2 linked regions of the Homo sapiens genome follow. The protein of the gene in region 1 purifies or fractionates together with the protein of each later gene. This does not show direct contact. Each region holds a gene or a part of one and is shown in the gene's direction. Other genes may lie near its edges. The genes, in order: TEX30 and PREPL.

The links.
Region 2: the proteins of TEX30 (region 1) and PREPL purify together in Homo sapiens (affinity purification with mass spectrometry; one large-scale study listed by BioGRID and IntAct). This does not show direct contact.

The regions. Positions count from the first base shown.
Region 1 is NC_000013.11:102,768,076-102,771,104, reverse strand, and holds part of TEX30 (testis-expressed protein 30), read left to right. Parts: intron 1-1,018; 5' UTR 1,019-1,078; coding exon 1,079-1,093; intron 1,094-1,563; coding exon 1,564-1,794; intron 1,795-1,901; exon of another isoform or gene 1,902-2,001; coding exon of another isoform or gene 2,002-2,115; intron 2,116-2,793; coding exon 2,794-2,845; exon of another isoform or gene 2,846-2,879; intron 2,880-3,029.
Region 2 is NC_000002.12:44,351,394-44,355,223, reverse strand, and holds part of PREPL (prolyl endopeptidase-like), read left to right. Parts: intron 1-3,830. UniProt on the Homo sapiens protein: Serine peptidase whose precise substrate specificity remains unclear. Does not cleave peptides after a arginine or lysine residue. Regulates trans-Golgi network morphology and sorting by regulating the membrane binding of the AP-1 complex.

The DNA.
Region 1 (3,029 bases):
TAATATTGGTTACCTTTGGAGAGGGGAATCTGATGTCAAGTCAAGAGTGGAATGAGTGAGACTTTTTCACTACATATTCTTGGTACCTTTTGAACTTTAAACCATGTTATTGTTACCTATTGAATGAATGAATAAATAAATGTTAATGGGAAAAATGGGTGAGTAATGGAGATCCTGATGTTGGTAATGTCTTAAACAATACAAGAGCTCTTAACATAGGAAGGAATGCTGCATAACAACCCCAAAATTTCAGTGGCTTACATTTTATGCTCATGGATCTTCAGATCAGCTGTTGGTCAGATGTTGGTTAGACTAGTCTGGACTCCAGACTTCAGTTTTGGGTTCAGTTCTGTTCCGTGTGTCTTCATTTTGAGACCCAGGCTGAAAATGCAAAACCACCTAGAGCATGTTTTTCTCATGGCTGAGGGTGAAAGTTCAAAAGGGCTTCTGGAAGTTTGCCATGCCTCAGCTCAGAAGTCACACATTGAAATGTCTACCTACATTCCATTAGTTAAAACAAGTTACGTAGCCAAGTCCAAAGTAAACAGGGTGAAGACATATATACTCTGCCTTCTAGCAGCACTGTGAAGTTCCATGACAAGATGTGGATGGGTAGGCTTGGGAACTATAATGATGAAGAAAATGGGTTAATGGAAAGATGCTGAAAAATTAAGTTTAGGATAGTTGGTTTAGAATGAAGATTCTTACAAAAATGTGTATTTATACATTTTACATTACCATATTTTGACAAGATACAGCATCCTACTTTGATATGAATTACCTTACAGTTTCCATGTCAAAGTATCACCTTTGTTTTATCTTCTATAACATCTACCAACCCTGCACCTGGCCCTCTAACCAATTCTGAGTGCCCGTAGAAAAATGTACATGTAAAGACACCAGATTTTAGGGAAGTAATTCTAAATGTTTATTTTAGCTACTGAATGTGTTCATTCATAGTTTTTGTGTCATATCCATGTCTGCCAACTCACCTTTCACAACAGAATCTTCTTTTCAGGGAGATGTCCTTTGCTTCTCAGATGTAAATGCACTTTAAGTTTGTTATTCAACAGTGAAAATGAGTCATACAGAGGTAATATTTTCGTATGTTCTGCATCTTCAGGGTTCCTGGTTTTTTGTTTGTTTGTAATTATGTGGCTTCAGAGTAATTTTATTTTCAACTTTCACTGTGGGAGGCAGTATAGCATAAGTGGTTAAGAGCGAGGAATCTAGAGCAGACTACCCTGAGTTTAAATCCTAGCTAGCGGCTATATAACCTTGGGCAAGTTACTTAATCTGCTGTGCCTTATCTATAAAATGGGGATAATGATAGTGCTTGCCTCACAGAATTGTTAGAAAAGTGAAATAAGTTAATACATATAAAGCACTTATAATAATACCCGACACAGTAAGCACTTAACTACTATTATTAATATCACTACTTTTTATTTGGAGGCTATGACTTGAATTATGAGCCTCACAGAGCAAACATATATATAGCTGTTCAGTTGTCTTAATAGGCAAGAAAGTAATTTTTGATCCCTTTATTCTCTTGAATTCCAGGTTAAATTAAAAATACCTTTTGGAAATAAATTACTAGATGCTGTTTGTTTGGTACCTAACAAGAGCTTAACATATGGAATAATTCTTACACATGGAGCATCAGGAGATATGAATCTTCCTCATTTGATGTCACTGGCATCCCATCTTGCATCTCATGGGTTTTTCTGCCTGAGATTTACCTGTAAAGGCCTTAATATTGTACATAGAATTAAGGCGTATAAATCAGTTTTGGTAAGAAAATTTCTTTATATTTACTTATAACAGAATTCTGTTTGAAATCCTTAATAAATGTAAGATAAATTTTATTAGTCATCTGGTTTAATTTAAAAAATCTTTGAATGAGTGTATTCTTAGAAAACTCAGCAGTACATGAAAGCTTTTTAGTCGTCAGATTTCCCTTGTCATCAGTTTCCATGGAGATGAATGCTTACATCATAAATGTTCCTCCGTGATATTGCCAAGGAAGCTACTTATGATTTTTCTCCCTGGAATTATGTAACTTTAGCACATCATTTTGGCATTCTAGAATATTTCATCTACCATACTATGCATGTATAAATATGATACTGTTTTCTGTATATGTTATTTAGAAACCTTGCTTAAAATCCTGGATAACACTAAAGTTTCTCTAAATCAAGCTTGTCCAACCCATGGGCCACATATGGCCCAGGACAGCTTTGAACGTGGCCCAACACAAGTTTGTAAACTTACTTAAAACATTATGAGATTTTTTTTGCAATTTTTTTTTAAGCTTATCAGGTGTCATGAGTGTTAGTGTATTTTATGTGTGGCACAACACAGTTCTTCCACTGTGGCCCAGAGAAACCAAAAGATTGAACACCCCTGATCTAAATAATTTCAAGCTTACTAATAAGTTTTTTAGAACTTTAGATGTTAACATTATCAAATTTGGTATTAGTTGGAAGCCTTTGCTGGCCTTTTTAAAAAATAATTCTCTAAAAAATAGTTTAGTGCTTAAATATTTTAGTAAAGGTAGATTGACTTTTTTTCTCACATATTTGCCTGTATTACCTAACATGTGATTTAATAGTGAAGGCATGACCAGAAGAGGAAGGACTGCTTACTTCTTTTAAGAAAAATCCCTTAAGATTTTCTGGTTATCTTTGCATAGATTTTCATACATTTCAGTAATGATGAGAAACAATATATCTTGCCTTTCCAGTGGAATATTTTATAGGTGAAGAACTGATGATTTTTTTATTTTTCTAGAATTACCTGAAGACATCAGGAGAATACAAACTTGCAGGTGTTTTTCTTGGAGGTAAGTGCAATACTTGTGAATACTTGTTAATTACCTGTTTTAATATAGGAATAGGTAATGGAGAATTAAAATTAGTTGATCATAGGAAGCTAATTTAAGGATTTTTTTTGTTGTTTTGGTAAGTCACCTTTTTAATGTTAAAGCACTTTATATACTTAGAGCAAACTTGAACCTCATGTATATG
Region 2 (3,830 bases), on another chromosome or scaffold:
AGCTTGAGTGATAATTCCTCATCTCTTTGGATTCTAAAATCCAAAAGCCTGTTAGAAAACAAATGATTTTTTTTAACTGATTGGAGGCTGTTGAGAATGGGCAAAACCTGACCTAAACTGACACAAAGCTATTATGATCTTTATCCCAATTAGTAGATGTTTAGCTCTAAAATGTTACTGCATTTGATTAGAGTGTTGTTCCCCTGTAAACTGAGATAAGGTACCCAGTTAACATTCCAAAATCTCAAAATTCTAAAACGTACCTGGTTTATCTTTATGTTTCAGATGGACTTATTTCACAGTCATGTATGTAATCTTACTGATATTCAGATCTTAAGGGTGAAGAAGGCCGGGCGTGGCGCCTCACGCCTATAATCCTAGCACTTTGGGAGGCTGAGGCGGGTGGATTGCCTGAGGTCAGAAGTTCAAGACCAGCCTGACCAACATGGCAGAACCCCATTGCTACTGAAAATCCAAAAATTTTAGCCGGGCCTGGTGGCGCATGCCTGTAATCCCAGCTACTCGGGACGCTGAGGAAGGAGAATCACTTGAACCCGGGAGGTGGAGATTGCAGTGATCTGAGATCGTGCCACTGCACTCCAGCCTGGTGTGATGGGAGCGAGGCTCCATCTCAAAAAAAAAAAAGAGAGGAGGAAAGGATAAATATAACTCACTAGTAAAGTGGAGATTTCAGTAGCAGTTGGATATATGAGTCTGGAATTTGGGGAGAGTTGTTACATGTAGATAGTAGTTGAAGCCATAGGAGTCAAATCACTATATTTACCTCTCTGCTATTACTACATCATTTTAAACTTTTCCTGTCTCCCCATTATATTGGGAGGTCCTTAAAGACAAGAATTTTATAATACACATCTTGCCAGCACATAGCATAACGACTGCCACATTGTAGATAAGCAACGTGTTTATAGAATGAATTAATAGTTAAATTAATGCATTTTTTCTTTTCATATAACCATAAATTTTATTGCTAGAAAACATACCCCAGAAATCATCCCATCTGAGCTCTTTCTTTAGGTCTTTGATACTTTTTTTGTTGTTGTTGTTGTTGAGAGAGGGCCTCACTCTGTTGCTCAGGCTGGAGTGCAGAGGCACAAACATGGCTTACTGCAGCCTCAACCTCCTGGGCTCGTGCTGTCTTCCTGCCTTACCTTGCAAGTAGCTGGGCCCACAACTATGCCCAGCTAATTTTTTGATTTTTTGTGTGTGTGGAGACAGGGTCTCACTTTGTTGTGCGGGCTTGTCTCAAACTCCTAAGCTCAAGTAATCCTCCTGCCTCAGCCTCCCAGAGTGCTGGCATTACATGTGTGACCCACCATGCCCAGCCCTATGACCCATTTTGAGTTCATTTTGTTTATAGTGCAAGGGATTGGGGTACAACTTTATTATTTTGCTTGTGGATATCCATTGTCTGAGCAACATTTGTTGAAAAGAGTGTTCTTTTTCCATTGAATTGTCTTGGTGTCCTTTCTGAAAATCAACTGACCATAAATTCAATGGTTTATTCTTGACTCTCACTTTCATCTCATTTTTGTATATGTCTGTCGTTATGCCAGTACTACACATTTAATTACTATAGCTTTGTAATAAGTTTTATTTATTTATTTATTTATTTTTTGAGATGGAGTCTCGCTCTGTCGCCCAGGTTGGAGTGCAGTGGTGCCATCTCAGCTCACTGCAACCTCTGCCTCCCAGATTCAAACAATTCTCCTGCCAAGGCCCCCCGAGTAGCTGGGATTACAGGTGCCTGCCACCATGCCCAGCTAATTTTTTTTTTATTTTTAGTAGAGACAGGGTTTCACCATGTTGGCCAGGCTGGTCTCAAACTCCTGACCTCAGGGTGATCTGCCCAACTTGGCCTCCCAAAGTGCTGGGATTACAGGCATGAGCCACTGCGCCTGGCCTGTAATAAGTCTTAAAATCAGGAAGCGTGTGTATTCTTTCTAAACAAATGAAGAAACTAAAGCCACAGAGCCTAAAGTTAAGTAAGAAAACTAGTAGAGTCAGAAGTAGACCTAAGTTAGCCTCATTCACAGTACCTTTCTTTTTTAATATCTTGTAGTACAGGTAGACCATCCCTAATACAAAATCTGAAATGCTCCAAAATCCAAAACTTTTTTAAATAGAGACAGAGTCTTGCTATGTTGCCCAGGCTGGTCTGAAGCTCTTGGGCTCAAGCAATCCTCCTGTCTCAGCTTCCCAAAGTGCTGGGATTACAGGCATGAGCTGCCACTCATGGCCAGTGAGCATCTTTTCTTACACTTATTGATCCTATAGTTTTTCTTCTTGAATGCCTATTCTTGTCTTTTGACCTTCTTTTAATTGTCTGTCCTTTTCTTACTGATTCATAAGATTTCTTTACGTGTCCTTTGTCTTTTATATGTGCTGTAGATATCTTCTCCATATTTGTTCTATTATTATTTTTTTCACTTTGTGATATCTTTTGTTAAATATGTTTTTTTCATTTTATGTTTTATGCTGTCTGAATTTTATTCAACTCAGCAAATATTTGTTGAACACCTGCTATGCACCATTCTAGGCACTGGAGATATAACACTGAACAAAATAAACAAAAATCCCTGCCTTTGTGAAGCTTACCATCCTACTTGAGAAAGGAAAAGAGAAAGAATAAAGAATTACATGAACAAGGCTAGGTGCAATGGGTCATGCCTGTAATATACTTTGGGAGGCTGAGGTGGGCTCATTGCTTGAGCCCAGAAGTTCAAGAACAGCCTGGGCAACATGGCAAAACCCTGTCTCTACAAACAATGCAAAAATTAGCTGGGCATGGTGGCGCCTGTAGTCTCAGCTACTTGAGAGCTGAGATCAAGGATCAATTGCTTGAGCCCAGGAGGCAGAGGTTGCAATGAGCCGAGATCATGCCACTGCACTCCAGCTGAGGTGGACACAAGCAAGTCCTCATCTCTCAAAAAAATAAAAAGAATTACATGAATGAAATACAAAGTGGGTCAAAAGCGATAGTTATGGCGAAGAAGAAAAGAAAAAAAAGACGGGGAAGATGTGAATAGGCAGTGTGGGGATAGGGAGGGGTGTTATTTTAGTAAAATGGTTAGGAAAGGCCTAACTTAGAAGATGACATTTGAGCAATAGCTTTAAGGAGGTATTTGGGCATAGGGCCCAAGTTCTAAGAAACTGATATGGGAGCAAGCTTGATATGTTCAAGAAACATCAAGTATGGATTAACTGGAATAAGTGGGCTTGGCGTGTAGCAGTAGATTAGGTCAGCAATGTAATGGGACAAGATTCTTTAGGACTTTGTAGACCATTGTAAGAATTTTTGCTTTTCCTCTTGAGCAAGATGGGAAACCACTGGAGGGTTTTGAGTGGAGTAACATAATCTGACTTCAGACTCACACAAGCTCCTTTGTTGAAAATAGACCAGGAGGCAAGCGCAGAAGCAGAGAAAGCTTTTGGGCTTTTGCAGTAATCCAAGGGAGAAATGATGATGATACTAGCCAAGTAGTCCAGTCCAAGTGTGAGAAGTGGTCAGATTCTAAATATATGTTGAAAGTAGAATTGAGAGGATTTAGCAGACCAGTTGTTTGTGGCAAGAGAAAAAGACAAATCCAACTGTAATGTTTTTAAGCCTGAGTAGCTGGGAGGACAGATTTGTCATTTATGTAAATTGGAAAGATTGCCTGGAGAACAGGGTTTTGTTTTTTTTTTTTTTAATAGGGCGAGGGATATATGGGGAGATTTAAAGTTCAGATTCGGACATTTTTTGGCATATTAGACATCTAAGTAAAAATGTTGGGTAGTCAGTTGGATATACAAGTTCATCTTGGTCAGGA